3 separate regions of the Homo sapiens genome follow, and regions 2 and 3 are each linked to region 1. The links come from fine-mapping of genetic effects on gene expression. A gene starts in region 1. Each other region holds a variant in brackets. All regions are shown on one strand. Distances are between the middles of the regions.

Region 1 (8,189 bases):
ATTGGACCATGCTCAGATAGTGAAAAGAGTAAGGTAACTATCCCCTGAAAATTCTGGTTATTTCTAGGAAAATGGAATATCTCTGCATTTATAAGATTTTTTAAATGTATGGAAAAATGAAAAAATACAGACTGTGTAAAAGATATCAGATTGTGCTATAGTGGTTACTAGGTTTAAGAATAATTTGGAGGCTGAAAAAGAGAAAAAATGCTATCAGGTAGCAATTTTTAAATTGTATTCGTGTGGTTTGCAATCTGTAAATAGCAATGTATCTCTTCCAATTTAGTTAAAAAACAGGACAAGATTGAATTTTTCCCGTGAATTTCCTGTTTTCTATTAAATTTAGTAGGTAATGTTAAGAAAAATTTCCTTTGTAACAGCAAAGAAAGCCAGTGGAATTTACAGCCAAGTTGGTAGCATATCAAAGTAAAATACCTGACACATACTATGTACTTAATAAATAATAAATAATTCACTATTATTATTTATAATAACATTATTAGTATTCTTCAGTAACTAAGCTGCATTCTCTGGACTTCCAGAATCATCTATTCAATCACTCATTCACTCAGTCCGCAAAAATTTTTGATGATGATGGTGATTAGAGGAGGAATGAAATTAAGAAACTCTAAAAACAATTTATCTATTTTCAGGGGTGCTGGTGAGATTTGAAGGTGATTTAATAGTAACTCAAAATAGAACATTAACTCAGGAAAAAAAAACAGGAGCATATATCAAAACAACAATGTTACCTCTTTGCACATTCCAATCACCATTTATTTACTCTTGCAAATTAGATGAGACAAATTAAAACTAGATCCAACTTGAATGTCTAGCTAAGTGTCCTGTGTCTTTTTTTTTTTAAAGAATCTACATTTGAATATACCTCCTACAGAAATTCAAATACAAAATGAGCTCTAGAGAATACCACACATACATGCTGCACATTAAGCAGGAAGCGAGGAAGGTAGATCCGCCTGGGGCAGGAAAATGATATAATTTTCCTCATATTCAATGGTATGGCCCTTCCTCTTCATTCTCACAAGGATTTGACCTTTGTCACAAACACGGATGGTCCTGATCGTGTCACTCCGGAACATGGACGTTATCAAGGACAGCTGCCGGCACTCTTGGTAATAATTTCTCTTTAAATGTAAGTGATCTTTCCTTTGAACATTTTGAGTTGAGATGGATGTGTGTTCAATAAACTTATTATGGCCTCTTCAAAAATCTTTAATATTTTAGTTAACTATGATTGATAGATCTTTTTGTCACTTCTCTCTTCTATTATAGCCATTATTGTTTTTAAAGATGGATGTAGTATAGATGTCACTGAAACAGAGATTCATTTTCACTAACACTAAAAGAAAGCATGTTCTACGCTAATATGTAATCTCAAAAACAACACTGTTTCTTGTAGTAATTATGAACATTCCCAACTTCGCTTTGAGTAAAGAGATGAAATTTTAAAATATAAAGTATTTTCTCTTAAGCAAAAGTGTGCTAATTAATAATTTTACACACACACATATAGACTTATGGACACTTATGGTTCTATTGAGCACTGTTTGAATTTTAGGATGCAAAATAAATTAGATAAATTATCTAGTGAGCAAGAGACAAAATCCAGGTTCTTGTTCATGCACAGTCTTTTTACTGTAGGGTGAAATTTGTCTCAAAAGTGTGAGGTTCAAATTATTTATTTTTCAAAATTCTCACTAGTTTCCATTTTGCTGGTTATGGCCTAACCTTTTTAACTTTGAGTTATTTTCAAGAGAAAATTTGAAAAAGCAGCCTTTGAGGAGAAAGAAGCAATCCAACAAACAAAAAGATAACCACACTGTAATAGGAAATGTGTTTTGAATAGGACATTGGAAGAAAAATAATAATCATTTTTACAGGTAGATCCCAAAGTCAAGGATCTATGTTCAACCATGTGTGTTCCACCATCTTCACAATTGAATGAGTAACCATCATTAAGCAGTTAGCTTAGGCCGTAATATGATTCTTGGACTGAGATTTCAAAAATACCACAGGCCTTCTGAAAGGTTACCCCTTTCTAGCTCCACTATCATCTAATTTTATTAAAAAAAAAAAAAAGGAAAAATTTGAGCTTCTAGAGAGTAGGGGCTACCATTTTGTATCCCACAGGGCCAAGGAACAAGTTTTAATGTATTCATTTAAATTAATTTCAGTATGAGTATTGAAATATATAATAGAAATATTGTAACATTATATATTTTCTATATACTTTTATTATATAGAAAATATATATTACAGAATATATTATTAAATATTGTAGAACAATATATAATACAGAAAAATATATAATACTCAGTAATATATTAAATACTTATTAAAATAGCAAGCTTATATAGGAAGAGTGATGGAGCATTGTGAGAAAGTTTCAGCTTTATTTCTTTGACATTACTTTGTTTCTGCACAAACAAAAGAATTACAGGAATTGTCCAGATTATTCAAATAACTCGAAGTTGAGGAGGGAATATAAGTCAATGATGTAGAAACTCTTTTAAGATTTGAGCTAGCCTACAATCTGTAAAGATCTGTGAAATTGAACTATATTTGTGCTATTTCCATATTAAGTCAAGGCAACAAATCAATATTAATAATAATAACATAGCACTTCTAGAACTTTCTAAAGAGTCCAATAAAGTTTTGTTAGAAAGGATTGTTTTTGAAGTTAAAAACCATGAGAAATTCCAGGAAAATCCACATACCTATGCCATCATACTATCAATCAGGGCAAAACATGCTTGAGTCTTTCATCAAGACTAAATGATTAAGGAGTGGTACATAACTTTTCCCTGTTCTGACTAGCTGAACACTTCCTTTTACTCCACATTTGTTTAATTGGCATGAAATTTCCCACTCCACTAAAACAGATCTTAGGATTTGGACAACACAAAATATCATTTTTTTTGAAAGGATTTGAGGATAAATCCAAACTAATAGAACTGAAACTTCTATATTATGCTGGGTAGCAACTTAGTTTTCCCTACCCTTCTTCATGCTGGGAGATGAAAGAGATTCAGTTACGGCTTAAGCTCCACAGGCATACAAAGTGAAGCAGAAAACTGAGGCACGTGTGCCTCCATTATCTGGTATCTCATGTGGGGCTTAGAGGTAAATTGTCGTTATTTGGCCTCCATTTCTGCCTTTAACCACTGGTGTAAACAAAGGTTACTGTGCCAAAGTTGACAGCAACCCAAATCCCTTTGGCATGTGAATTAGTTTCCTCTGCCATACTGCTAGTTCCAAATTCCTTCTGGTTTCAGGATTTAGGAGTCAGGGTTGCCTCATCTTCTCAAATGAGTTACAGTCACGCACATCCCTACGCACTGCATGGTTGGCACTAGTTCCTTGATATATGTTACTCCGTTTGATCCTCATGAAGGATCAAATGGGGAAGGGAGATACTATTGTCTCTGATTGTCCATTAAGATCTTGAGTATGTTCTACTTCCCTGTTTGACACACTGGTTTGAAAATGTTGCTAAGTCTTCCCAACAATGACAGATACTCAGTGGAAACATGAAGGATTCCGTCAAACTGGTTATTTTGCATCATGTAGACCACTATTTCCCAACCTGCAAGTGCATCATGGCCTTTGGTGTGTCAGGGACACGCCTTGGGTGTGTGTCTCAGTCTAAAGCTTCCTCCTTTTCACAAGCTTCCTGTTTCTCATCTCTCTAGCTTCTAACTGTCACTGTAATCATCTCTTACTCTTCAGCCTGATGTCAAAAGCAAAAGTTCAGAAGTTCCTCATCAATAAGGAGTCCTTGTGAGCAGGTGAAGCTCATCTAACTAGGTAAGATGAAGATCTATCATAACCAGGAGGCAGGTTGGAAGGTGCCAGTTGCACTGGCAGTCAGGTGCAAGAGCTCTGCAGTGAGGCTGCCTGAGTGTCCATCCTAGATCTCTCACCTCTTGGCTCTGTGACCTTGAGCAGGTCTTAAATCTCTCTAAGCCTTTGTTTTTTTAATTGATAAAATGAGGATAATAATAGTACCAAAATTAGGGAGATTTTCAGAGCTTAAATAACATACGTGAACTATTTAGAGTAATGCCTGCCATAAGGGGACTCAGTAGCTTATTATTAGTTTCATACAATTTGAAAAGTTTCATAATATTTGCAGATATAAGATGATCTTCAACCAGATAGCTAATGTATGCAAAGCTATTTAGCTTCAGAAGTAAACTCTGCATTTCTAGAAGTTAAATATTACTTTGTTATAGTGAATTATCTGTAATATTTATCTCTTGCTCACTTTTATAAGAAAAATAGTGAAAGCATTTATTAAGAACTTACACTGCACTAAATGTTATATATGACTTAATCCTCACTATAACCCTATGAGATAGGTTACATTATTGTCCTAATTTTACTAACAAGGAAACCAAGAGACAAAGCTACTAAAACACTTGCCTGAGGTTAGACATCTTCTTCTGTGGTGAGGCTGGATTTCAAATTTAGACCATTTGACTGTAGCACTTATATGATGAGCACGCTGTTTAGTGTTATAGTGTTGGTCTACCTTTGAATAGACATACTTTTAAACCATGGCAAGGAAGTGAGACTGCACATTGAAATACGCAAAATTTGCCTTTGGGTGCCACGTGAGAAATAATCACATCACTAGAAACTAATCATAAGCTTTTGTGTTTGGTTAAAGTTTTATTGATCCATTTTTCTTGTTTACTTTGTGGGATACTGGGCTTAACTAGGGGATACCTCCACTTTTTACTTGGCCATGGTATGAAAACCTGTCCTCTGAATCTTTAGATATTTTGTCAAATTGTAGGCAAACAAAGACTTAAAGCAATTCAACCTTGATTAAAATAAGACCAAAAATGCCTCCATACTTGATTAAATTTATTTCATTTTAGGAACTGGATTATAATCAAGACAACTTCTACATGAAAAAATAGATTAATAGTGCTCCAAGTTAGTTCACTGTATTTATTCCTTTTTATACATTATCTGCCTTCGGTGTTATTCAAGTTTTCATTAATCATTAATAATTTCACTAATCATTTTATTTCATTAATCAACATTGATAGTTAAAATTAATCTGTGAATATTAAATGTTTTATGCCAGGCATTTCTATGATGTGGCTGCTTTTAACAACAACTTGTTTGATCTGTGGAACTTTAAATGCTGGTGGATTCCTTGATTTGGAAAATGAAGTGAATCCTGAGGTGTGGATGAATACTGTAAGTCATGGAAAACTGTGAAGAACATCAAATAAAGCAGGACTAATGGAGTATGAGGTTACGAAAGGTCCTGTTGTAACAGAAAATCTCTGATAAAACAGATAAAATGTAGATGGTTTTTAACCTCTGCAAGAGTCAAGCTAGTTAGATCTTTGTCTGAAAAACAAATACTGTCCGGTAATGAAAACCAAATTGTGCTATTGTGCTATCTATCTATCTATCTATCTATCTATCTATCTATCTATCTATGTATCTATCTATCTATTTATCTATCTATCTATCTATCTATAGATAGAACCTCCTCTTTTGAATTTATGTTTTAAGAATATCAAGCTATTTGTTGATGTACATGATTGCCTTCTATTGATCTATAGTTCTATTACTTTTAAAGCAAGAGGGGTCTCAAAAGACAATTGACTTGATAATATAGCTTTGTCAGAAAGAATGGGTCAATGCTAAATTTTCCCCCAACCCCCCAAAATATTAGCCAATAGTAGATATTTTTTAAAATTCTACTTATTTTGTATTAAGACTTTATTTATTAATTTTACAGTTACCTGGTGCTACAAATTTCAGATAATTCACCCTAATAAGCACACAACAGATGGTTTGTTTTGATTCCTTTTTATATCCTTTGGAGAAGTTCCACTAACGACTGTATTTTTACTGGGCAGAGTGAAATCATCATCTACAATGGCTACCCCAGTGAAGAGTATGAAGTCACCACTGAAGATGGGTATATACTCCTTGTCAACAGAATTCCTTATGGGCGAACACATGCTAGGAGCACAGGTACAAGATATGTCTCTCCTGAAAAGGGGACTGCATTGACCTCCTGCTTCTCAGGAGGAATTTAATGCTAGATATGCATCAACAGAGTTTATCAAAATTGGTTTGAATTATTGGATTAGTCTTTAAATAGTTATCAGGGAGGCTCACTCTTTGCCTGATAATTCTCTGAAGACAGACAGGAACCTAAAAATACAAACAGCAAGACTGATCTTGCTAACTGCAACCAGAGGTACTTGTTAGGGTGTAAACAGAAAGGCAGAGCCTGCATTTTGTCACCTCATTACTGATTTATCATGTGGAAAATTGCTTTGTCCCAGGAAAATGGATCCTCTCATTGTCAGAAGGAGATTTTCTAGGTTGTATGAAATTGACTCTGGGGCACCCAAGAAGAACCTCTCCTGCTCCCACTAAAATTAAGGGGCCTCCCTCTGCAGGATAAAAAACAATCTAGTTAAATGACAACGCATTTCTGAAAAGTTTTCCAGGACTGAAAACCTTAACATCCACATACACTTTGATCTAAGGGACAGACGGTTCATAGAATGAAAGAGTATGGTGTCAATAAGGCTTGAATTCTAGAATGAGGAGCCAGCCATGCCATAGCAGGGGAATGATACTCCTTAAAAGGGAAAATTTAACTACAAATCCTCTGAAGTAGAAATGATAAGAATAACCAAAATATCTGCAATGGTTCAATAGCAAATAATTTATTGGCAGCTGCTTACCGTGTTCATTTTGCATCTTTTTTCCCACCACACATATTAAGGAGCAGCTGAGGTCATGTTTGACATTCTCTCCCTCTTTTATCTCCAGTTTCAGAATGAAAAATGAGAGTGAGATATGAGTAGTTTTACTAGTTAAAATATGAAACACCCAGTTAAATTTGAAGGTCAGATAAACAACAAATAATTTTGTATAAGTCTCATTTTAAGATAATACTAAAAAGTCATTATTTATTCACTATTATCACTATTTATAAAATTTTGTAGAGCATCCTGGAACTTTTTGCTTACTTTTGTTTTTATTTTTTGCTAAATCTGGCAATCCCAGGCACATGTGTGAAGGAGCTGTGAAATATAAAAGGAGAAAACTTTTATGGGAAAGATTTGGCTTAAGGAGAGATAATTTTGGAAAGATTTAGAATTAAAGATCATTCATTAGATGTAATGTTCTAAATACTTTATATCAGTTAAACTTCTCATCAACAATATGAGATGGGTACCACTAATAGTCACCATTTCACAAATGATGAAATTAAGGCACAACCGGTTATGTTAAGAGGCCTAAAGTCCACAAATAGCAAGCTGACAGACCAGAATTTAAGCCCAGGCATGCTGGCTCCAGAGCCTGTGCTCTTAGTCATTAAATTATAGTGCCTTACTTGACCTTCCACCCTGGTTCTTTGGATCTCCCTGAATGCTCTCTCTCCCTCAGAAATCTGGAAGTTGGCAGAGGGACACTGAGCTGAGCATATTATTGTAGTTTTTAAATGCTCTCCACTGGACAGAGGATGGGGATTTGAATAGAAATTTGGTGAGGAACTAATCAGTGTCCATTTACACTCACCTCCTCTTCCTCCCTGGAAGAGCTATAGGACTTGAGTAAGCATGATAAATTTTGTGTCTTTGTAAACCACACCCAGGAAATTTGTATATACAAATACATAGAGCACAGTAGTTATCAGGACAGACTTTGACATAAAAAGAACTGGGTTTGAGTCCCTGCTCTGGCCTTCTTATCTGGGTGGCCCTCTGGGAAAGTTACTTAACTACATAAAGTTTTGTTTCCATATCTACAAAATGAGGTTTCTCAAAATAGCAGCTAGTTTATAGAGTTGTTGCAAGAATTTAGTAAGCTAATACATATAAATACGTCAACATAGCACCAGGTACAAAAATATGTGCTCAAGAAACTGAAGTTACCTGATTATAATGCTCTATACTATTGACAAGGGAAAAGTGAAAACAGTTTTTGTTTTACCATGTGTGTATGTGTGTGTGTCTGTGATGTTTCCGACATGCTCTATTTAACATAAATTACTCTCACTCTTTCTCTCTCTCTCTTTCTCTTTCTCCCTCTCTCATCTTACCCTTTCCCCCACCAGGTCCCCGGCCAGTTGTGTATATGCAGCATGCCCTGTTTGCAGACAATGCCTACTGGCT
Region 2 (8,189 bases), 50 kb after region 1:
GCTAAAATTTGAGACACTTCTATAAATTTTTTTTTCTTTGAGATGGAGTCTCCCTCTGTCACCAGGTTGGAGTGCAGTGGCGCGATCTTGGCTCACTGTAACCTCCGCCTCCCAGATTCAAGCAATTCCTCTTCCTCAGCCTCCCAAGTAGCTAGGACTATAGGCATGCACCACCACGCCCGGCTAATTTTTTTTATTATTATTTTAGTAGAGATGGTGTTTCACCATGTTGGCCAGGATGGTCTCGATCTCCTGACCTTGTGATCCACCCACCTCAACCTCCCAAAGTGCTGGGATTACAGGTGTGAGCCACTGTGCCCGGCCTATACATTTTTTTAAGGTTAAGTATACAATGGTGTCTCACACACATACATGCACACATATACACTGCATTCCATAATATTCGGTTAATTGAGTTTTAATTATAGTGGTAGTTAATGCTTATTGAGTTCCTACTATGTGCTGGGAATTACAGTTAGTGTTATATGTGCATTATCTTTTTGCATTTATTGCAACAGTCCCATGGAGTATGAACCATTAGAATTCCTAATTTACAGATGCATGAACTGAAGCATAGGAGCAGTTTAACTAAATTTCTCAAGATTATACAGCTAGTTTATGTAATAGTGTTAGAACCAGTGTTAAAACTCAAACAGTGGGACCCAGGAGCTTTCTCCTAATGACTATGCTTTGTTTTTGCCCTATATTCTACCTGGGCATGTGATGTTTGGCCTTCTCTCTTGCTCTTTTTTAAAGCAGCCCCTGATGCAAATGGTTCTCTCCTTCTCTCTGAGTGATAACAATGGGCAAGAATAGTGAGGATGCTTAGAAGATATTTGCAGCTACAAATTTTCCAGAGAATGTCTACATGTAACTACTGTATAGAGTAAGGATTCTTAACCAGGGGTTCGTATGTAGGCAACAAGATATCTGAAACTCCTGAAATTGAATGCAAAACCATGTTTTTGTATCCATTGTATATCCATTTTTATAGTTCTCCTCAAATTCACAGAGGGAACTTTAACCTGAAAATGTTAGGAATCAATGCTCTTGAGTCTGTGGTTTTAGAACTGGAAAGAACCTTAGGAAATGCATGGCCCAGGAATGCTCATAAGTTGTCCTGGAACAGGTGCCCCACTGGCTGCTTTAGAACCATCTTATCTGTAACCTGAAGTGGGCTCAAGACTCTGTATGTTTCAATGCCCAGAAGATTCTGATGCACAACGAGGTTTTGGAATCAATGTTCTGATCCAGTGGTTCTCAAACATTAGGGTACATCAAAATTCCCTAAAGAGCTTGAGACACAAACTGCTGGGCCCAGTCCTCTGAGTTCCTGATTCAGTAGGTTTGGTTGGAATTTGCATATCTAACAGATTAGTCCAAGTGATGCTGATGCCTTTGTCCCAAGGCCCATACTTTGAGAACCATAATTCTATTCCGGTTTCCATATTAAGACAAAGAAAGTAAGGACTAGAGAGGGTTAGCAGATTTTTCTAAGGTAACATGATTAGCTAGGGAAAAGCAAGGACTTTCACTGTGTTTTACAGCATCAAGGAATCTACTCTTACTTTTGGATCATTGAGAATATGGCCACAGAGAACTGAACCTAAAAGAAATTGTGCTTTTTCCATAGAGTGAAATCATCCAACATCAAGGCTATCCCTGTGAGGAATATGAAGTCGCAACTGAAGATGGGTATATCCTTTCTGTTAACAGGATTCCTCGAGGCCTAGTGCAACCTAAGAAGACAGGTGTGGGTCACCCCATGTCACCGCAACACAGCAGTCTTCTCTGCAGTCACGATTTCCTTGTGATTTGAATGTAGAAGAGAGCCTGGGTTCTTAGTGCAGAGTGAGGTCCATTGTTCAGGTCAAAGGATGGTGTCAGTTCCCCCATAGTCTCCATCACCACCACCGTGTCCGTCCCCACTGCCACCAATTATCTCAATTAAACATACAGTGTTTGCTTTTCAAAACACTCCTTCAAGAAAAGTTCATTTCTTGACTTATTTTAGCGCTTAACCCATTCCCCAAAACTCCTCCTATGTAGACATTCTAAAATATTTACTGACAATTCCTTGAACAGACCATATCAGCCTCTGATTATGAAGAATTCAAGCTTCTTTATGGCACCTGGTACCCGCTCCTGTATACTCTGTATTCCTCATCTAAAGAGCACTTAAAATATTTAAGATGTTGCCTAGCTTTTTACTAAGGGCTTTTGAAAAACGAAAGTTCTATACATACATTTTATTTTATTTTATTTTATTTTATTTTATTTTATTTTATTTTATTTTATTTTATTTTTGAGGTGGAGTTTTGCACTTGTTGCCCAGGCTGGAGTGCAGTGGTAGGATCTCAGCTCACCGCAACCTCCGCCTCCTGGGTTCAAGCAATTCTCCTGCTTCAGCCTCCCAAGTAGCTGGGATTACAGGCATACACCACCACACCTGGCTAATTTTTGTATTTTTGGTAGAGACAGAGTTTCTCCATGTTGGTCAGGCTGGTCTTGAACTCCCGACCTCAGGTGATCCACCCGCCTCCACCTCCCAAAGTGCTGGGATTACAGGCATGAGCCACCGCGCCTGGCTATACATACATTTTAAATGTTTGATACATGTCTCCATAGTTCATACAATTCCACCCTTTTGTATGTGGGATTTTCAGCTATTGTTATTTTTTAAACATTTGTTTTCATTACTAAAATATGCCTATTTTTCATTTCTATTTGGCTGGATTCTTTTTAATACTCTAGCAGTAGGTTTATAGTAGCAACTATATTGTCTTTCTTGTGTATAGGTAATATAATTTCTTGTGTTATTTTGATATGCCAGATACACTGATAAGTGCTTTATTTGTATTAGTCTCATTTAATTTTCACAATTACCCTAAGAAACTGCTACTCACATATGTTAAGCAACTTGCCCAAAACGTCTGTGCTAGTGCTTGCTAGTGAGTTGTAAAACCTGCACTCAAATCAAATCTGTCTCTCTGCCATTATAGCCCGTGTTCTTAACTAGGACCAGAAAATGCTGGACAAATGCTATTGGGCTTTGGTGTAAAGAAACGTTGGGGTTCTGTTTTACTCCAATTTGTACTTGTGTAGCTTTTTGAAACCACCTTTTTTTTTCTCACTAGCTGCACAGCTGCGCCTTATACATGTCTAGCGTGCACCTGCCTTAGTGTCTTTGAACTTAAATTTCTCCCTCTGGACCACTGTTTCATCAGATGTCTATGCAGCTTGCCTTGGCCCTTCTTTCAGCCAACTTTATCAGAGTTCTTCCCTGGCCACCCTATTCAAAGTTGCAGCTCTTTGCTACCTATTGAGTTCTAGCCCCTTACCCTGCTTACTTTTCCATATAGCACTTACCATCACCTGATATAATAGATATTTGCATGTTTGTCTATTGTCTGTCTCCCCCCAGTCAGAGTGTAAACTCAGTGAGAGCAGAGACATCATTTGTTTTGCTCAAGGCTAGAACCAGTAACTAAATGAGTGCTGAGCACATTCTGGTGCTAATAAATATTTGCGGGATGAATTATAGATTTTGTATAAATAAATGAATAGCCTGGGGACACAGCCCCACGAATCTCAGGGGAGTGGTAAAAGCACAGTTCTTCCAAGCAGTCGAGTGACTTAGCAATTACTAAGCATGGGGGTCACCTGCAGCCCCTATTCTATGGATGGAATTTGTTTTCTTACATCCTGTTGATTCAGACTGTTCACACATTGCCCAGGTGTTTGAGGTTCAAGGAATCTGCCTCCTTGTTCCAGTCCGTGCAGAATACTTCCCTCTAGTGGCCAATGTTGTTGGCATGTGCCTCTTCAGAGGCAATCTCCCATAT[C/CA]AAAAAAAAAAAAAAAATTCACCAACCAAGAAAGCCAGTGAAATTCTTATTGAAAACAACTGAAAAATGTTTACTGTAAAGCTTATAGCTTGTGGTAGCGGCCTTTTTATCTTTATCAAAGAATCTTAGTTGGCTTCAATATCAAGAGAGAAAATAGGCTGGGCCATCCTCAGAAATGACAGCTGTGTAAGTGTAGCCCTTACACACTTACCTGCTGGGTGTAAATTAAATAGAAGACCTAGGGGATGTTTGAAATGATATAAATGAGCCATTCCTCTTGTTAGGGGAATCACAAGAACAAACTATATGACTAAGTAGAACCAAGGTGACCTTAACCATGGGAAATGCCCGGACTCTCAAGGGGAGCATTGATCACCTTGGTTTGATTGTCCTGTGTTAACACAGCTGAGGTCACCTCCCTGAGAACTAAGAGGATGAACTAAATGACCAGATTAGATTTTCAAGGAAAATCTAAAATAACACTGAGTTCCTTCCTCCTGGCCCTTCACTCACAGTCCACAGTGACCCACACGTTCTCTCCCTTGAGAGACAAAATGAGGCAGATGGAATTCATGAAGACTGTCAAGATGCTGGATGAGTTTGGTGTAGAAGGCTTTTGTCCTACAGGGAGACTGCATGTGTGTTTGGTGCCCGTTTATAGCAATAACAACAAGAGCTACCCATCTGATCTGAGGTCGGGCAGCATGCTGAGTGCTTAATGCACAGTACCGCATTTAACCCTCCCCTGCCAAAACCCTGTGAGGTGGGCAATTGTCCTCATTTTGCTAATGAGAACACTGAAGCTCAGAAAGTCACTTGCTTTAGAGAATTATAACAATAATAATGAAAGCAATAAGGCTGTTTTTTACTGCAGGCTTCTTCTGAGCCAATACTGAGGTGTGGATATTGCATTCATGATTTGATTTAATTCTCACAAGTCCTGTTGAGGGCATGACATATTTTTTACTCCTAATAGGGCAGCACCTTATTAATCTTTCAGCCAAATTTGCTAATGTCAAAATAATATATATGCCTTAATTTATTGAACATATTAGAATTCTTAAAACCCTTCATCCTTCTCTATTCTCTACTGATATTCTTATAATTCTTTATTTTGATATAATTTCCAATTTATGGAAAAGTCCTGGGAATAGTACAAGGGACTTCCATATGCCCTTTGCCCTGATTTACCAACTGTTTACAGTTTTACCCCATTTATTTTATCATTATCTCTCCCCCATCTCTTACGTGTATCTTAATACTTTTTCCAAAACCTTTGATGGTAAATTTGAGACATACATCATGCCTATTTGCCCCTAAGTACTTCAGTGAGTATTTTCTAAGAACAAGAGTATTCTCTTCTATAACTGCAATACCTTTATCAAAGTTAGAAAACAAACATTGATTGACATTAGTGTTTAATTCGTAGTCTATATCCAAATTTTGTCAATTGTCCCAAAGTCCTTTACAGCTGTTTTCCCTCCTCTGGTCCATAATCTAATCCAGGATCATTTACTATACATTTGGCCACCAAGTCTGTCTCCTTCATAAACAAACAATTCCTAAGGTTTTGTCTTTTTGATTTTTGCATTTTTGAAGAGTTTTGGACAGGGATTTAATTTGCTTTATCTGATGTTTCTTCATGGTGTGATTCAAGTTATATGTTTTTGGCAGGAATAACCCAAAAGTGAAGTTATATCTTTCTTGGTTCATCATATTATGAAGCAAATAATGTTGGCTTGTTCCAATACTGATAATAACTTTAATGACTTCATTAAGGTGGTATCTGCCAGGTTTTTCTAAAGTTAGTATTTTTCCTTTTGTAATTAACAAATAAGTTATGGGAAGATAATTTCAGGATATGTAGTATTCTGTCTTTAAATTTTACTCACTAATTTTAACATTCACTGATAATTTCAATCTTTCTGAATTTGTTAGTGGGTATTGTACTGTAAATCAATGTTTTGTATTTACTAATTGGCATTCTGTAAATAAGAGCTTTTCCTTCCAATTATTTATTTGTTCATTTATTTATTGGTCTCTATATGGACTTGAACATTCTTAATTTATTCAATGGGATATAATTATTTACTATAATTATTTTGATGCTCAATATTTCTGTATTTGAACAGTGGGAGCTCCTTCAAGCTGGCTTGTGGGTCCTTTTGACATGAAGGTCTCTTAATCACTAAACCATTATATATATGTGGTATACATATACCTTAATAATCATACTATACCATCTACTGGGGCACTTTCAATATTTCTGAAGAGCCCAGACAAGTCTGATAATAATTACACAAAACAAAGAACAGAAGTTAAACTTTATAGATTCTTTTTCTGCCGGGCAACATGCCATCCATTTCTTGTGCTCTATTTTATTAAAGCATAACAAAAATCTTATTTTACTGATGAGGAAATCAAGGCACACACCAAAGGTCAAGTAATTGGCCAAGATAACTAAGCTAGCAAGCAGCTGAATCAAGATCTGAACACAGGTTTGTTTGATTTGAAAGCTCTTATTCATTACTGGACAACAAGAAAGGGAGAGAACATTTCATACAGTTGAAATTTTCTCTTTTTGCAGGTTCCAGGCCTGTGGTGTTACTGCAGCATGGCCTAGTTGGAGGTGCTAGCAACTGGATTTCCAACCTGCCCAACAATAGCCTGGGCTTCATTCTGGCAGATGCTGGTTTTGACGTGTGGATGGGGAACAGCAGGGGAAACGCCTGGTCTCGAAAACACAAGACACTCTCCATAGACCAAGATGAGTTCTGGGCTTTCAGGTATATGATAATCTCGAGAACAGAGGTAGACATGTCTGTCTTTCAAAAAAAATGGGTAAAAAATTACGGCTTCTAGTATTTGGTTGATTTATTTTGGTTGAGTCATCATTATCTTAACATGATATCCCCCAGTTTTCTTAATTAACTAGTGATTCCTTGGTTGAAGTAGTGAGGAATGCTGAGTTCCCCATGTAGAAGGTGGGTCTAGCTAATAGGGTGAGAATGGTGGTTGGTGTCAGGTGACTAAGATTGGAATGAGAGAAGTGTAGATCAATTTCCTCATGGGGAGGGGCGGGTAATAGTATAATAGTACTCCAGAAGGAAAAGAGACCAGGCAGCATTAAAAAAAAAGAAAGGAAACTATTAAGCCTAGTGTGTTAGTCCGTTTTCACACTGCTGTAAAGAACTGCCCGAGACTAAGTAATTTATAAAGTAAAGGGTTTTAATTTACTCACAGTTCAGCGGGGCTGGGGAGGCCTCAGGAAACTTACAATCATGGCAGAAGGTGAAGGGGAAGCAAGGCACCCTTTTCACAAGGCTGCAGCAAGAAGTGCTGAGCAAAAGGGGGAAGAGCCCTTTATAAAACAATCAGATCTTATGAGAACTCACTATCACGAGAACAGCACAGGGGAAACCACTCCCATGATTCAACTACCTCCACCTGGTCTCTCCCTTGACACATGGGGATTACAGGGATTATGGGGATTACAATTCAAGATGAGATTTGAGTGGGAACACAAGGCCTAACCATATCACCTAGGGACCATCGATTTGACTTACCTCTCATGTTCTTACAAAAGATTTTTAACTCTTTTATTTAAATTACCTATTGATGTTCAACTCACTTTTTATGGCTATCAGAGACGGACCACTTCAGCATCTTTACAACTATTCCTGTAAATGAATCTGCAGAGCCCTGTGCGGTTCTGCTTAACAGTAGAACAGGACACTTCCACTAGCAGTTGCGTTATGTGCTCAGTAAATATTCACTGAAGATAGTTATTGCTACGTGATAACATCTAGAGAAAACAGCAGTTTGCTGACAGCCTGTGACTCCAGAGGCACCCATGCTTCATAGGTTTGAAAGAAATCCATTCTGAGTGTTGTGAGGGACACGGTAACAAGCTGTCAGAGTTGACAACTCAAGGGCTTGTTTGTAAACCTGGTGTCGGGGGGAGCTTTTGTTTGTTTCTGATTATAATTTTTCATATAACTTTGTCTTTTCCCCTTGTAGTTATGATGAGATGGCTAGGTTTGACCTTCCTGCAGTGATAAACTTTATTTTGCAGAAAACGGGCCAGGAAAAGATCTATTATGTCGGCTATTCACAGGGCACCACCATGGGTAGGTTCAAAGAAAAGCAGGTTTGTATACTCGGAAGAAATGTGAGCATACGACACTAGCTATCCCTGAAATCTGTCACCTTGTGCTTCCTTCAGACCTGCTCTTTTCATCTTCAGAATCATGTAGTCCCCAGCAATGTGTCTAGCATATAGACATATGTGCTAGATATAGCATATCTCTGTGCTATATGTGTCTAGATATAGCATATCTCTCA
Region 3 (8,189 bases), 32 kb before region 1:
AAATAATTTTATACCCAGTGTTTATATACACGTCATTTTTCTTTTAGATAGATTCCTGAAAACAAAATTACTGAGTGAAGGTTATGAATACTTTTAAATTTACAAGACATGTTAACAAATTTTTTTCATAAAGGTTTTGCCAATGATTAACTCTACCATCAGAAAAAAGTACCAACCAATCTAGTAACTAGAGATACCAAATGTGCTTTGATTAATTTATTGGCCATTATATTTCTTTTCTACACATTATCTATTCCCTCTTTTGTCCAGTTATCTACTGGAAACTTGATTGATTGGTTTCTCTGTTCCTTTCCATTCATTCCCTCTTTTCTTCTTTCCTTGTGCCTTTTCTTTTCTTACTAAAAAGTCATTTTAGATTTTTCATGGAATGAATGTTGTATAATTCAGTATTCTACTGGTTAAAGCACAGCCTAGAAGTATGTTTCTGCTCTCTCTCATAGCAGTGTTATAAAAAGATTACACCAAATTTCACTTCGTAGAATTTATCTTTGATGACAAATATATTAAATTTCCTTTCCTAGGCAGATCCCAAATGTGGCAGCTTTTAGCAGCAGCATGCTGGATGCTTCTTCTTGGATCTATGTATGGTTATGACAAGAAAGGAAACAATGCAAACCCTGAAGCTAATATGAATATTGTAAGTCATTTATTCAGAAAAAAATGCTAAAATAAGGAATTATTCATATTTCAGCATTTTAGATACAACTGGTGTGCCTTCTTAGTTTTCAGCAATTCCTCCAGTGACTAAGTCTGTGCTTCCTCTCCTGTTTCTTGATATGGCTAACTAATCCAAGAATTAAAAGATCTGACCCAAGTTGGGGCAGTAATAGTCCATCTCCTGGTGGTTTGAACTACCATCCAGTGGTGGCTTCCTAAAGAGAAGTTTCATGACTTAATACAGATGATCTCTATAGAGTACCTTTGAGTTTTCCCCGAGATTTTTGATAGAGCAGTTTCTTTGATTTTGTGAGCTATCCCAATATGCTTTTTTGGTTTCATAAGCCAGTGTTGGTTTCTGTTGTTTATTACCAAAGTATTTTAACATTCAGGAATTCATATCAGAAGTGGAATGGAATAGTGTTAGGCAAAGAAAAAAAGGCCAAATGACAAATATCTACTACAGAATTCATTCAGATAATATACTCCATTCTCCTATATAAACGGCGCACAATTGCTGTCCTGTACCATACGCAAGTTGTATCAGAACCATAAAAAGAACGAAACTGCCAAAGTTTTTTTTCATTAGTATCTCTTCTTGTTCCTCTCTCCAAAGTATCCAGCAAGTACCCTTGATCTCCTACCAAACTGTTGAACTCACATAATTTTTCTCTCTCTAGCATGAGGGATTTTTAGCTTTTAATCCTTCTATAATGATAAGAACAATCATCTATAAAGCATTTATGTTAGGCATTATTCTACACATATTACATATAATCCTCACAATGTCACAGTCTGTCTCCAGAGCCTGGGCTCTTCACCATTGCTCTGTGTAGCCCACAATTTATACATGCATCTCTGTGTCTGACTTGGGAAAATGCATAATCCTTTGATTAAGGCATAAGCTTTGGAGTTAAACTTACTTTAGCATTAATCTTTTTATCTCTTCCTGGTATATAATCTTGGATAAATTGTTAATCTACCTGAACATAAGTTCTCTCAACTGTAAATGGTACAATTCCATCTCAAAGGCCTCTTATAAGTTTAATGAGAAAAGGAATGTAAACCTCTACGCAGAAGATACCAGTAATCACTAATTCCCCTCTTCTTTGTATATCTGCAGGTGGGGTATCTTTTCTGACCCCTCTAGGCTCACTCTCTGTTCTTTAACACCTTTCTCTCTGCCCAAGAGGCTGAACTGTAAGGACAGGTCAACAAGCTCCCTTGACTTTTGGTTTTCAGTTCAATTCAGCCAATGGAAATGGTGAGCAGGAGATGGAAAGAAATAGGCCAGTAAGGTTTCATTTTTTATTGCCCTGGCTTCCTCCCTGTGAAGTCAACTTAGACAAGCTGTCTTCCTCAATTTGGTTATCTCAGCTTAACTTTCTCCTTCGGGCTTCCAGTAACTGCTTCCTCCCCTCTTCTTTCAAGTCTGTTTGGTAATAGATCACTTGTTATTAGCCACAGGGTACTCCACAATTCCCTGTGGTTTCCCTCATTAGATGACCATATAATTTTCATCAAAGCAAACTAGGGTGCTTTAATAATACCAGGCCAGCAGGCAAAACCAGAGTGTCCTGAGCAAACAAGAATGTAGGGTCACCCCACCCAGACTTACCTATGCCTCTTTATGTAACTCCTAGAAATCCCTCTTAAATTATCCTCATAGGAATATTACATGCCGTCACGGCACATAGAGTGATAAACAGTAGGTGCAATTTAAAGTACTACATTGTGGCCAGGCAGGGAGGCTCACACCTATAATCCTAGCACTTTGGGAGGCTAAGGCAGGGGAACGAATGCCTTGAGCTGAGGAGTTTAAGACCAGCCTGGGCAACATGGTGAAACCCCATCTCTACAAAAACATACAAAAAATGTAGCTGGCCATTGGGACAGGTGCCTTTAGTTCCAGCTACTTGGAAGACTGAGGTGGGAGGATAGCTTGAGCCGAGGAGGCGAAGGCTGCAGTGAGCCAAGATCACACCACTGCACTCCAGCCCAGGGAACACAGTGAGACCCGTCTCAAACAAACAAACAAACAGACAAATAAAGTACTATGTTGTAATTCATGTGTAAAAATTAAGAGATTATAACATGAAGGTATATATTTCCTTTCCTCTTTTTAGAGCCAGATTATTTCTTACTGGGGTTATCCTTATGAAGAGTATGATGTTACAACAAAAGATGGTTATATCCTTGGAATTTATAGGATTCCACATGGAAGAGGATGCCCAGGGAGGACAGGTATTATTTATTTTGTTATGAAAGGAAAAATACTTAAAGCAGAGGTACTTAGATGTCCTGGGAGAAGTCAAGCAGTTTTTGTTCTGAAATTCTTAACAGTCCTTTCCATTAAAGGAGAAAAATTATCGCCCCCCATCTCTCTGTTTAATTTGTGTAACTTTGAAGTTTTAAGTCACTTTTACATACACTGTTTATCTGGTCACTCCTTTTCTTCATGACTTTGTCTTCCTACCAAGCAAACACAAAAACACATCGTGTTCTTACCCTAGTGATACCTCTGTCCCGTTTTGAAAATCAGAAATCTAGGGGTTATTCTTGATACCAACTCTCCCTCACCTTCTACATGCAACCTATCATCGCCATCTATCAATTTTGCCTTCTAAATTTCTCCCTAATCTGACAACTTTCAGCTTCAATAATCTTTCAAATCCAGGTTTGGATATAATGTCTTCAACTACTACAATGCCTCCTCACTGGTATTAAACTATTTGTAGTCAGTTCTGGACCCAAGTCTGTGTGATTTCATGGTTTAAAGTAAATATTACCCTATTAGCTCCCACCTAGCAACAGCATCTCAGCTTGTCAAATCACCATCTAGTTTAGCCTACCTACCTTCACTCCAGCCTCCACCATGTCCATCAGGGTGACCCAGAACTCCGCCTTCAGCAGCTGTTGGTACAGGAGCATACCCAGTGCTTGTATCAGAACCTCAAGCTTCTTCCAGGTAGGTAGCAGCTTTCTGGGTGGCCTGGGCACCAGCATGGGTCTGGGTGAGGTCTATGCTGGGGCTGGTGATATGGGAGGCATCACAATTTTCACTGTGACCCAGAGTCTGCTGAGCTCCCTAAA[A/G]GTGGAGGTGGATCCCAACATCCATGCTGTGAACACCCAGGAGAAGAAGCAGATCAAGACCCTGAACAAGTTTGCCTCCTTCATTGACAAAGTGTGGTTCCTGGAGCAGCAGAACAAGATGCTGGAGACCATGTGGAGCCTGCAGCAGCAGAAGACAGCTGGGAGAACGTGGACAACATGGAGAGCTGCATCAACAACTTTCTGCGGCAGCTGGACACATGGGACCAGAAGCTGAAGGTGGAGGTGGAGCTTGACAACATGCAGGGGCTGGTGGAGGACTTCAAGAGTAAGTACCAGGATGAGATCAACAAGCATATAGAGATGGAGAATGAATTTTCCTCATCAAGAAGGATGTGGTTAAAGCTTACATGAACAACGTAGAATAAGTAGTCTCGCCTAAAAGGGCTGCCCCAGGAGAAGAGAAGATCCGTGAGCTGCAGTCCCAGATCTCGGCCACATCTCTGGTCCTATCCTTGGACAACAGCCGAGTCCTGGACATGGATGGCATCATCTCGACGTCTCCGCCCAGTACCAGGAGATCGCCAGCCGCAGCTGGGCCAAGGCCGAGAGCATGCACCACCAGGTCGAGTATGAGGTGCTGCAGGCCTTGGCTGGGAAGGCTGAGAATGAGCTGTGTCGCAGGAAGAGGATCTTCCAGGTGAACCGAAACATCAGCCGGCTCCACCATGAGACTGAAGGCCTCAAAGGCCAGAGAACGCAGAGCAGCGTGGGGAGTCCGCCATTAAGGACTCAACGCTGAGCCTGCAGAGCTGGAGGCCGCCCTATAGCGGACCAAACAGGAGAGGGCGCCGTAGCTTCACCGGAACCTGGAGCTGATGAATGTCAAGCTGGCCTTGGGCATCGAGAGCGCCACCTACAGGAAGCTGCTGGAGGGCGAGGAGAGCCCGCTGGAGTCTGGGACGCAGAGCAGGTGTATGCATAGGAAGACAAGCAGTGGCTACCCAGGTGGGCTGGGCTCGGCCTCACAAGCTCTGCCCTCAGCTATGGCCTGGACTTCTTCCAGTCCAGCTTTGACTGTGGCGGGGACTCCGGCTCTTTCAGCCGCACCAGCTCCTGCAGGGCCATAGTTGTGAAGAAGATTGACCCCTGCAATGGGAAGCTGGTATCCGAGTCCTCTGATGTCCTGCCCAAGTGAATGTCCACGGCAGCACTTCTTAGCTTACCCTTCCTGTGGCTGTCCCACATCCTGCTGGGGAGGCAGCTGTGCAGGGGAGCATGGGCAACTGGAGACCCATCTGACGCTCAGCCCTAGTTCTCAGCCCACCCTACAGGGATAGTTTGCTGCCTAGGGTACACCTCTTGCCCTTGCCTCCAGCTGAAAAAACAAGTCTATTTTTTTTTTCTGAAACAGAGCCTCAGGTATCCTCAGGAATCTCTGCAAAAAAGACCCTATTAGTTCCTATCAGTTCTGTGCTTAAACTTCATTAAAGAGCCAATTCTAGCTCCCCGCAATGCAGGTGGCTATCTGTTGGGGGGGGGGGGCGGGGGAAGAGCAATTCATTTCCCAGAAACTATTTGCTCTTGCTTTCTTCTCTCTCTTCTTAGTTCATTTTATACTTTGACATGTCGAATAACAAAACTTCTCAATATCAGAAAGACTATTTATTTAAAGAAAAACTCTAGATTTCTAAAAAGAGAGGAAGATATAATGGTGTTGCTGGCTTTACAGAGCCAATTATTTCCCAAAATAACTCCATAATTACAAATAACTTTGTAAATACTCAAGAGAACTTTTAAGTCTCTCCAAACTTTTCTCTTGTCATTTCTATCACGTAGCTGCCAAAATTCATGAGACAAAAAGCTGTACAATGAGAAACTCTTTTTCTAATCTGAGATCCCTGTGATTTGTCTCAGACTCAGATCAAAGAGGCCTGATGGTACTTGACTATTTAATGGTACTTAACTTTGGCAGAGTTAGTAACACCTCTTCTTTCCCTCTATTCCAAATGGTGGAAAAATGGACATAGACTCTTAGTTCCTTGGTCCCGATGGCTGAAGGCTCTCTGAGAGTACAACTTACTCACTCTCAGGAAGCCACTCTAGTTCCAAAAGTGACCTGAGGTAGAGTCCTGAGATAACAACACAGCATCACAAACCACTTATAAAGCACAGGAAAAGTCTAGTCACTTCTTCCCTCTCTTCTCTCTTTTTCCACACTTTCTCACTTCTTTCTTTTTCCTTTCTCTTTTTTAGTTGAAATGTTCCTATTTTACATTGGGAATAGGATTTTTGTATCATATTAACAATTTTAAACTGTAAATTTCTACTTACAACCTTGTTTTTTGCTTTCTAACAATTCAAATGAAATGAAGCAGTGCCTATAAAACTTAGCATAGTGCTTGACATTCAATGAGCATTCAACAAATGGCATTTTAATTATTGTTTTTATTATTTTGAAAAAAATTTAAGTTTTTAATCAGATGAATCTTGAAAAATATAATGCTATTAATATAAGTAACAGTAATAGAGCTAATATATATTTACTGTGCCAGACAGCTTTTTTTTGTTTTGTTTTATTTTGTTTTGAGACGGAGTCTTGCTCTGTCGCCCAGGCTGGAGTGCAGTGTGGCGATCTCGGCTCACTGCAAGCTCCGCCTCCCGGGTTCACGCCATTTTCCTGCCTCAGCCTCCCGAGTAGCTGGGACTACAACGCCCGCCACCATGCCCGGCTAGTTTTTTTGTATTTTTTAGTAGAGATGGGGTTTCACTGTGTTAGCCAGGATGGCCTCGATCTCCTGACCTCGTGATCTGCCCGCCTCAGCTCCCAAAGTGCTGAGATTATAGGCGTGAGCCACCGCGCCTGGCAACCAGACAGCCTTTTACATGTTTTAGTTCTCATCGAATTCTTATAAATACCCTAGGAGATAGCATTTATTATTATTTCCCATTATACAGATAGGTTAACTGAGGCACAAAGGAGTTCATGCGTATCGAAGGGATTTTGAACTAGGGCAAACTAACTTCCACACTTACATAATACAATACATTGTATATAATCCCTTACAAATGAGAAAACAAGACAGAGAACTTAAATAACTTACCCAAGTAAGTAGCTCAGAAGGGACTAGATCCCAGGTTTGCCTGGCATCAAATTTTATCTCTTAACCTTTCTTTTATACTACAGAAATTCAGGAATGAGATTTTTCTTGTAGACACTGAGAAAGTTCAAATATGAAATTCTTGTTGCCTGTGTTTTGCAGCTCCAAAGCCTGCTGTGTATTTGCAGCATGGCTTAATTGCATCTGCCAGTAACTGGATTTGCAACCTGCCCAACAACAGTTTGGCTTTCCTTCTGGCAGATAGTGGTTATGACGTGTGGTTGGGGAACAGCCGAGGAAACACTTGGTCCAGAAAACACCTTAAATTGTCACCGAAATCACCGGAATACTGGGCCTTCAGGTAAAGAGAAACCTATTAATGAATAAAATGTGTACTTTCCTCATGCATATGTATGAACACCTAGTGATTTTTTTCCTGTTTTGTGTCCAAATGCACCCAATGGAATCCACAAGAAGGAAACAAACCTTTCTTTCTCTACCCAAACTTTCTTCACAGGCTCTAAAGAACTGCCATTATTATTGCATGGCTGTTTTAGAACTCCTGCCTCCGTCCTGGTGTCTGCGTGTGAGTGAGTGTGTGTGTGTATGTTCTGGGGGAAGTAAGAAGAAAGCCTGATTACAGAATAGCTAAGCAACAGTGCTGCCAGCAGCAGCGCCTGAGGGTGCTGTCTACTTCAGAAGCCACGCCTACCCGGTCACAGGAGCAAACTGATGCACTGGCATAGGAGCTAAGAACCATGCCTTGGAGGTCATGAAAATCCTGTGTTCCTTGGCCTCGTTGCCTGCCTTCTTTCTGGAAACCACTGGGATTTCCTAATTCTATGCCATAGTCCATTGCACCCTTGCAAATGACTAGAAAATTCCCTAGGTAAGTATTTCTTAAACTATACATAGGATCAGAAGTAACTGAGGTCATTGTTAAATATGCAGATTACTGGGTCTCTTCCCAGGAAATTCTGATTCAGTCAGTCTGGGCTGAGGTCTGCAAATCTGTTTGCTTTATTATTCTCTCCTTTAGATAAGCATTCCAGGTAATTGCTCTTTTCAGAGGAGCTTGGTAAATCTGTTATAGAATTAAGTGAATACGACTAGCCTTGCAAGAAAAGCATCAGTAGGCCTCGACAAATCAAATTTTTCTGATTTCAGTTTCTTAAAAATGTTGACTTGCAATCAAGGTGACACCCTTAAAAGTTGCATAGTTGCCTAATATCATATATCGACACTAGTCTTATATTTAACAAAATCAAAGTATTTATGTCTTCACTGAACGTGTTTAAATGTTCTAGGCCTAACAATGAGATGACTTTTCTAATTTGTTATTCCTTCTTTTTGATAGTT

Evidence for each region.
Region 2: its variant is fine-mapped to the expression of LIPN in memory regulatory T cells (Schmiedel 2018, PIP 0.95).
Region 3: its variant is fine-mapped to the expression of LIPN in sun-exposed skin (GTEx, PIP 0.99).

Annotation. Positions count from the first base shown.
Region 1 is chr10:88,756,279-88,764,467 of GRCh38, forward strand. LIPN (lipase family member N) reads left to right here and starts at 3,742. Exons shown (of 10, transcript NM_001102469.2): 1 at 3,742-3,828; 2 at 5,120-5,235; 3 at 5,910-6,027; 4 at 8,132-8,189. The coding sequence starts at 5,128. RefSeq lists an enhancer at 2,897-4,096.
Region 2 is chr10:88,806,665-88,814,853 of GRCh38, forward strand. It overlaps LIPM (lipase family member M), which reads left to right. Exons shown (of 9, transcript NM_001128215.1): 2 at 1,634-1,751; 3 at 6,433-6,631; 4 at 7,866-7,975. Among named protein-coding and RNA genes, the nearest start is that of LIPM, 8.0 kb to the left of the region's middle. The variant C/CA (reference allele first, on the strand shown) is at 3,846.
Region 3 is chr10:88,723,991-88,732,179 of GRCh38, forward strand. It overlaps LIPK (lipase family member K), which reads left to right. Exons shown (of 10, transcript NM_001080518.2): 2 at 543-658; 3 at 2,805-2,922; 4 at 6,993-7,191; 5 at 8,188-8,189. The coding sequence starts at 554. It also overlaps the pseudogene KRT8P38. Among named protein-coding and RNA genes, the nearest start is that of LIPK, 22 kb to the left of the region's middle. The variant A/G (reference allele first, on the strand shown) is at 3,772.